Linked DNA regions of Homo sapiens: region 2 is linked to region 1. Evidence: fine-mapped expression QTL. A gene starts in region 1. The other region holds a variant in brackets. All regions are shown on one strand. Distances are between the middles of the regions. Region 1 holds the start of NEFM (neurofilament medium chain). Region 2 has its middle 8.9 kb from the start of MIR6841.

Evidence for each region. PIP is the estimated chance that this variant, and not a neighbour inherited with it, causes the effect.
Region 2: its variant is the best candidate, but not a certain one, in a credible set for the expression of NEFM in whole blood (INTERVAL, PIP 0.53).

Annotation. Positions count from the first base shown.
Region 1 is chr8:24,911,854-24,916,241 of GRCh38, forward strand. NEFM (neurofilament medium chain) reads left to right here and starts at 1,908. Exons shown (of 3, transcript NM_005382.2): 1 at 1,908-3,020; 2 at 3,752-3,876. The coding sequence starts at 1,941. RefSeq lists an enhancer at 1,552-2,325.
Region 2 is chr8:24,942,745-24,947,132 of GRCh38, forward strand. No RefSeq gene overlaps it. Among named protein-coding and RNA genes, the nearest start is that of MIR6841, 8.9 kb to the right of the region's middle. The variant T/C (reference allele first, on the strand shown) is at 1,978.

The sequences.
Region 1 (4,388 bases):
TGATTACTTACTGATGAATATGATCCTGTCTTTTAATAAAACAGGGACTTAAGGAAACATGCTGTGAAAAGAAGCTATTTCGGTCTGGAGTCCCTACTTTTTATAAGCAGTAGTTTCTTCTCACCCATAGCAAGCGTTGCACATTCAGTCACTTGTACCTGTGGCCCCAGCGCTGTTGTTAGTTCTGCAATCTCTTCTTCACTTTATCTTGTAGTATTCTGAACTTTTTTAACCTGAATTACCCCCAAAGCACTACCCAAAATAAAGGGACATTTTAACAGGAGTACACCAGACAGCAAGAAGTCTGTGTAGAGTTCTTGTTTGCATAAACATGTTTAATGATATAGAAAATCTATTCCAAATCAATCATTAAAATCTAAAGCGAAAAATATATTACATTTTAAATGAAGGGAAAACATCTGATTTTATTCAAGGTTGTGGTGACTCTGTTCCGCAACTTTTAAATCAATTTAAAGTTAATTCAGATGCCTTTTCAATCATTGCAGTTACACATAGGGAATACTGAACCGAAAGATGACAAGGCAATTGTCTGTGTCCAAACTTAAGAAAAACTATATTTCCCTGGACTTTTCATCCCAACAGATTTCAAATTCTCCTTTCCAAGGAGTATTTGACCTTCACATTTCAGGCCCTGTATCTCTTCATTTCCTATACCACCATATGTTAGAAAACTCAAACTGGGCTACAAGTATATATTTCTGTTAACTGACTTTAATGAATTTTGGTTGTTTTCAAAATCTGCGATCTGTCCATTGTGCCAACCCTGCATTGCAGGGAAGTCTTAGCCTGTGATTCCAGCTTCGCTCCTGCAAAGATAGTCACTACAGGCAGGTTTAAATTGTATTTACTCGGAGAGAAGAGGGGGAAGGGAACCCCCTGCCCCCTGCCAACCTGACAGGCCAGGCTGGGTGACAAGCCCCCCGGGTGGCTGCACCTCCCACTCGCCGACCTGGGCGCTGTCCTTGGTGCTGCCGGCGCCATAGCGAGCACAAGCGCCTTACCTTCTGCCCCTGCGGAAGCTGCGGACGTCCCCCAAACGTTAAAAACGCCATATCCCACTTTTTATACAAATAACTACCCCGGCCTGTTCTCTTTGTCCCCTTCCCGAAGCCTTCAGGCAGACCGTTCCGCAAAGTCTTTTTTTTTGTTTTGTTTTGTCTTCTAGACCCAGCTCCTCGGCGCTCATCTCCAGCTGCTTTAAGACAAGGGGTGGGGGAAGGGGAGGGAGGCAAGAAAAGATGAGGGTGGGGGAGGGGAAAAGAGGGAATGCAAGGGGAAGGAGGGAGGAGACGGGGAGAAGGAAAGATTGGAAGAAAAGGATCTCCGAGGAAGGGGCTGAGAGAAGGGCAGGGTGAACTGGACTAAAGGCCAGAGTAGGAAGGAGAAGAGGGGCCAAAAAAGAAGGGGATGAAATTAAGCACAGAAGATGGGTAAAGAAAAAAGTATCAGGGAAAGGGCAAAATAAGAGAAAGCCTTGAGGATAAGAGGGTAGAAGGCTAAAGAACAAGGGGACCACGGGGTCGGGGAAGCGCTGCCTGAACGGCGGGACAGTGACAAAGAAAGGGCGCTGGCGATATTCGCACCAAGGGTGCGAAACGCAATCGGGAGGTGAGAAATGGAAAGAAGGCGAATGCCCGGCTACAAGTAGCCTGGGACTGAAAGGGGACCTGGGGGAGGGGCTGGGCCCAGGGCAGAAAAGTCCAGGTTCCCATGCGGCCTGGGCCCACGTGGAGCGGGCGCTGAATCACCGTTCAGCCGCCCCCCTCCCCTCCTCCCCGACCGGTGCCCGCAGTCCCCGCCTCCTCGGCCGCCGCCTCCACGGGGCGGGGCCCTGGCCCGGGACCAGCGCCGCGGCTATAAATGGGCTGCGGCGAGGCCGGCAGAACGCTGTGACAGCCACACGCCCCAAGGCCTCCAAGATGAGCTACACGTTGGACTCGCTGGGCAACCCGTCCGCCTACCGGCGGGTAACCGAGACCCGCTCGAGCTTCAGCCGCGTCAGCGGCTCCCCGTCCAGTGGCTTCCGCTCGCAGTCGTGGTCCCGCGGCTCGCCCAGCACCGTGTCCTCCTCCTATAAGCGCAGCATGCTCGCCCCGCGCCTCGCTTACAGCTCGGCCATGCTCAGCTCCGCCGAGAGCAGCCTTGACTTCAGCCAGTCCTCGTCCCTGCTCAACGGCGGCTCCGGACCCGGCGGCGACTACAAGCTGTCCCGCTCCAACGAGAAGGAGCAGCTGCAGGGGCTGAACGACCGCTTTGCCGGCTACATAGAGAAGGTGCACTACCTGGAGCAGCAGAATAAGGAGATTGAGGCGGAGATCCAGGCGCTGCGGCAGAAGCAGGCCTCGCACGCCCAGCTGGGCGACGCGTACGACCAGGAGATCCGCGAGCTGCGCGCCACCCTGGAGATGGTGAACCACGAGAAGGCTCAGGTGCAGCTGGACTCGGACCACCTGGAGGAAGACATCCACCGGCTCAAGGAGCGCTTTGAGGAGGAGGCGCGGTTGCGCGACGACACTGAGGCGGCCATCCGCGCGCTGCGCAAAGACATCGAGGAGGCGTCGCTGGTCAAGGTGGAGCTGGACAAGAAGGTGCAGTCGCTGCAGGATGAGGTGGCCTTCCTGCGGAGCAACCACGAGGAGGAGGTGGCCGACCTTCTGGCCCAGATCCAGGCATCGCACATCACGGTGGAGCGCAAAGACTACCTGAAGACAGACATCTCGACGGCGCTGAAGGAAATCCGCTCCCAGCTCGAAAGCCACTCAGACCAGAATATGCACCAGGCCGAAGAGTGGTTCAAATGCCGCTACGCCAAGCTCACCGAGGCGGCCGAGCAGAACAAGGAGGCCATCCGCTCCGCCAAGGAAGAGATCGCCGAGTACCGGCGCCAGCTGCAGTCCAAGAGCATCGAGCTAGAGTCGGTGCGCGGCACCAAGGAGTCCCTGGAGCGGCAGCTCAGCGACATCGAGGAGCGCCACAACCACGACCTCAGCAGCTACCAGGTAGGAACCGCGGCTGCGCGGCCAGCCTGCGCCAGCGCCAGCGCCGCGCGCCCCCGACACTTGGGCTCGTGCCCAGGCGCCCTCTCCGCCGCGCTCCCTGGTGGCCGCTCGCTAGAGCACGCGCGCCGCAGACCTAGGGTATTTGCGGATCAGCGTCCTCGCCCATCTCATCCTCCACACTCCGCCCCCACCCACCTGCCCCAGCTGCTAAGGGTCTTGACCTTTTTCAGAAACGTGCATCTTTTCCAGTTCTAATTTTGCACGCTTGCACGTTTAAAGCAGGAGGGATGAATTCGGTAGTGGATAAATCAGCAACTTTAGGATAGCTTATGCAGAAACGCGTGTATTCTCTACTTTTCCGGCAGTGATCGGAAGAGCTCTCAAAATTGGCTTCAGCCCAAAGGGCTCAGATGGGAATGGCCAGGTCAGCCATGGAGTTTCCCCATGCATGTTTGTGTCCTGTTGAGACGTGTTCTAAGTCCACTGGTCTCCGTGCGTGATGTGCCCAGGAAGTGTCCTATTGTCTTACTGATCTTGTATGTTCATTTGAGAATCGCTTAGATTTAAAAGAAAAAGGGGGTGGGACGGGGGGCTGGGAGTCAGGTGTCAGCGAGGTTTGCAGAAGTGGAGGGAGACGGGAGGAGGCCAGGGGGAAGGGGTAGCAAGTGGTTTGCGAAGGAAGTTGCTGTTTGCAAGGATGAGTCTGGGGAGATTCTCTGTGTCTGTTTCAGGACACCATCCAGCAGCTGGAAAATGAGCTTCGGGGCACAAAGTGGGAAATGGCTCGTCATTTGCGCGAATACCAGGACCTCCTCAACGTCAAGATGGCTCTGGATATAGAAATCGCTGCGTACAGGTACGATGCTTACTACGTGCGTGGCCGGAACACTAACCGCAGTGCAGAGGCTGTTCCGGCAGAGCTTCCACCACTTAAGTTAAAGCAGGCAGGGTGCAGGCATCAACTCAGCACCTGGTTATCTTGCTTACTTAAAAAGAAATTATTCTAAAGAATTGCAAGTGTAGTTTTATCTCTTTTTATGCAGCTTTAAAAGAATGAATACTAGTAGAAACAAAAGGTTTTTGAATTACACAAAGGAGGTGCAGATTAATCTCAATGCACATGCTTAAACTTTTTATGGAAAAATGTTTTCAAATGCTGGAAGCATGAACAGAGTTTTGGTTTCTAATATTTCATCTAGTGGTTTCAGCTTTTCAAATGTATAATGTCAAGGACAAACACCAGGACGTTCTATTTCTCTGTTTCTCTGTTATATAGCTTACTATTGCCATCATCTGGCTGAGAATAGATATAGAATGATAGAATATAGATATAGTTCTTTTATATATGTAGATAATTTATATGTATTA
Region 2 (4,388 bases), 31 kb after region 1:
GAGGGGCGGGATCTCTTACTGCAGGGGCTGTGGAGGCTGCACCCCGCACAGGTTTTGCCCCCGGGGGGCATCCTGGGGTCGTGCCCACCCACTAAGGAGACTGGAGCGGCTTTTTTTTTTTTTTTTTTTTTTTTAAAGACAGAGTCTCGCTCTGTCGCCCAGGCTGGAGTGCAGTAACGCAATCTCGGCTCACTGCAAGCTCCGCCTCCCAGGTTCACGCCATTCTCCCGCCTCAGCCTCCCTAGTAGCTGGGACTACAGGCGCCCGCCACCATGCCCGGCTAATTTTTTGTATTTTTAGTAGAGACGGGGTTTCACTGTGTTAGCCAGGATGGTCTCGATCTCCTGACCTCATGATCCGCCCGCCTCGGCCTCCCAAAGTGCTGGGATTACAGGCGTGAGGCACCGCACCCGGCGGAGAAGCTTCTTAAGCTCCTGTCTCAGCCCTGGTCGTCCCTCCCCAGCCCAGAGCTCCTCCTCCCCCGACCACATGTGCATCCAGTCTGCCGGCGGAAAGAAACAAAGAGAGCAGGTGTGACCAGCGGCGATGCGAGCGTGGGTGGCGCCCGGGCAGAGCTGCAGGTGCAGGAACCCAAGGGGGCGGCTCCGGGCAACAGCGGTGATCGCGACAGTGAAACCAGAAAAAGTGGTATCTGGCCATTTTGATTTTTCAAAGCCTTTTATCTCAGCTCATTAGATTCTCACGGGTTTAGGGAGGCGTGTTTAGGTTACTTTAAAAAATATATATTCGAATGATCCGTATGTTCAGTGTAAACCTAAATACGCTCGGATGCGCTCCGCCCTGTCCAGGAGCACAACCCAGCCCCTCCAGAGAGACCCCCAGAGCTGGTAGTCACGAGGCTCAGGGAAGATAGAAATAGGGGCTGGGCCGGACGCAGTGGCTTACGCCTGTAATCCCAGCACTTTGGGAGGCCGAGGCGAGTGGATTACCTGAGGTCAGGAGTTCGAAACCAGCCTGACCAACATGGTGAAACCCCGGCTCTACTAAGGTGGCGGGCGCCTGTAATCCCAGCTACTTGGGAGGCTGAGGCAGGAGAATCGCTTGAACCCGGGAGGCAGAGGTTGCGGGGAGCTGAGATGGAGCCATTGGACTCCAGCCTGGGCAACAAAGCAAGACTCCGTCTCGAAAAGAAAAAAGAGAAGAAAAGAAAAGGAAAAAAGGAAAGGAAAGGAAAAGAAGAAAAGAAAAGAAAAAAGGAAAGGAAAAAGAAAGAAATAGGGGCTGAGGTCCTACGACCCTTCCTAGTTCTCCACACCGATTTGGGGGAGGTGGGGAGCAGTAGGCAGAGGAGGGTAGCCTGCCCTTACAGGTCTGCCCTGGGAAGGCAGGAAAGCCACAGACAGGCTTTCATCACCTCGGGAAACCTGCTGCCACTGGGTGAAAGAAAGTTTTTTGGGTGTTGTTGTTGAGATGGAGTCTCACTCTGTCACCCAGGGTGGAGTGCAATGGTGCGATCTCGGCTCACTGCAAGCTCCGCCTCCCAGGTTCAAGCGATTCTCCTGCCTCAGCCTCCCGAGTACCGCCACCATGCCTGGCTTTTTTTTGTATTTTTAGTAGAGACGGGGTTTCGCTATGTTGGCCAGACTGGTCTCCAACTCCTGACCTCAGGTGATCCGCCCCATCAGACTCCCAAAGTTCTGGGATTACAGGCTTGAGCCGCCGCGCCCGGCCTGAAAGGAAGTATTTTTCTACTCATTTTGCTTAAATTATGCATAAACTTGAGCACAGTGTTGTTTCCTAAGCCGGCTGGAGAGAGCCGCTGGGCTCTAAAAGCACCTGGGCTTCTACTCCCTGAACAATAAGATGACTGTCTGGCCCCTCTTATACAAAAACAAGCTAAGGGCATGGTGTCTAAACAACACACACTCACCGGTGCACACACCCCAACACATCAGGTTGCTTGCTTTGGCTGAGGAGGGACCGCTTGTTTCAGGGCTGTGTGCCACCCCAGGAAAA[T/C]TGCACCCGTGCTGTAAATGCTGAAAACAACTTCCACTCACTCCTATCTGCAGGCTTCAGCTGACTTCTCAGAAGTCACACTTGTCTTTTCCAGTTTTCACTGCTCAGGTGGGAGTAGGAGGACCTGAGGGCAGGTGTCAGTGTTCAGAGGGGAAATCGAGAACAAGCTGTGTCCCAGGTGCTCCTATTAAGTCACAGTGGCCCTTTGGGGATTTGGTTCACACTCAGAAGTCACTTCCACAGACACACTCAAGGGGAAGCCACTCTCTGGTTAAGTGTCCCATAACCAGAGTCCTGGGTTCACACTGGGATCCTGCTGACCATAGGGGCCAATTGACAAACCCATTGGGGAAGGTGCTGCATTTTACTTTCACCCTTGGGGCAGTAGAGGTGGCTCACACCTATAATCCCAGCACTATAGGAGGCCAAGGGAGGAGGATCACATGAGCCCAGGCGTTCCAGACCAGCTTGGGTAATATACGGAGGCCCCTGTCCCTACAAAAATACAAAAATTAGCCAGGCATGGTGGTGTGGGCTGAGGTCAAAGGATTGCTTGATGTCAGGAGGTTGAGGCTGCAGTGAACCACGATCACGCCACTGCACTCCAGCCTGGGTGACAGAGCCAGACCCTGTCTCAAAAAAAAAAAAAAAAAAAAAAAAAATCCTTAGTTTCACATGTCTGACACCAATTTTTCTGCCTTAAACTCTGAATGATTTGCGGCTTCCAGGTGAGATTCTCGCTCACACATATTCTCCTTTGTGTGCATCTAGGATGGGGAGGAGGAGAAAGAAAGAAAGCTAGCCTCTCTCTGTCTCTGTGTGTGTGTGTGTGTGTTAAAAAGATTGAGTTTTCCAGTGAATAAATGATTCAAAACAAACTAACAAATCAGAACAAGCAGATCATTCCTGCCTCACAGCTAGAGCTGATTAGGTAAAACATAGATAGAGTTTTAAATATAGGGTTTCTGTCTTTGCTGGTGGGGTAGATACACAGCAAAAGGGAGCATTAATTTTGCTACATCAAAGCATCCCGCTAGTTGCTATTTGTCTTTTTTCTAATGATCATGTCAGGAAACAGCCTATATTCCACATGAACATATAAGGATGTGGGATGGTTATAAATTGAAAAGACATTTACCTAAGAGTAAAAGGATTAGTGACCACCATTACACAAATGAAAGTGTCTTTAATAGCTATAAGAAGCCTGAACCTCATCTGCAGAATCTCATGTTTTTTGTTTTATCATTTTATATTAAGACTACTTGTAATTAACATAAATTATTGTTTATTAAAAATCTCCCATTTGAAATCATGTGCAAAAGTAAAGTATTTTTAAAAATTAGTTGTTTAAGCTTCCTGAGTAGCTAAGACTACAGACATGTGCCACCATGCCCAACTAATTGTTTTTTTAAAAAAAATATTTTTTGTAGACAGGGTCTCACTATGTTGCCCAGGCTGGTCTCAAATTTTTGGCTTCAAGCAACCTTCTTACCTCAGTCTCCCAAAGTGCTGGAGTTACAGGCATGAGCCATCATGCCAGGCCCTAAAAATAAATTTAAGATGTCAACTGGGATGCATTTGATCTCCCAACAAAACAATAAACAGTTTTATTTTTCTGTCACAATTTACCTTGTCACATATTAGCTGCCACCATACTTATTCCAATTAGCTAGAGTAATATACATTTCATTTAAAATGAATGAATGCAGGAAGTAAAGCTCTTAAAATATAGCTATCACCTTTTATAGAATAGAAATATGGGATTACACATCAGGTGCTATTAGAATGTACATGATATCTCGTGAATACACAAACCCACTGAGGGAATTATTAAAGAAACACTTCACTAGAAGGGTAAACATGAAGACATACATTGAATATTTATTGCCATGCTATCTAGAATTTTTATGAACATGTTTTTAAACTTAAATTGGGACACACATAACAGATAAGAATGAGTATACTGGTGAAATTAGAGCAGAAGAATATTTAAAACTGGAATTATTTCAGAATCTGTGAAATGCATGCCTGTTTTTCATAAAAGAAATATCCACATGCCTAGCTATCTGTGGTAGCCTCTAATGATCTCCCCTTCTTGCTATTTGCCCTTGATATATGCCCTTGTGTAGATCTCTCCCACACTGAATCAGGCAGACTAGTCTCTGTGACCAACAGTACACAGTGTTAGTGATGGTGTGTGACTTTCAAGCCTTGGTCATAGGAGACATTGCAACTTCTGCCTTGGTTTCTTGGAAGCCTTGCTCTGGGGAGGTCCAGCTACCATATTGTAAGGATACTCAAGCAGCTCCTTGGAGAGGCCCACATGGAGAAGAAATTGACAGCCAAGTTGATAAGTCTCTGTGAAAGGCATCCTACATCCCTAATCAAGGCCTTCAGTTAATAGTACCCTC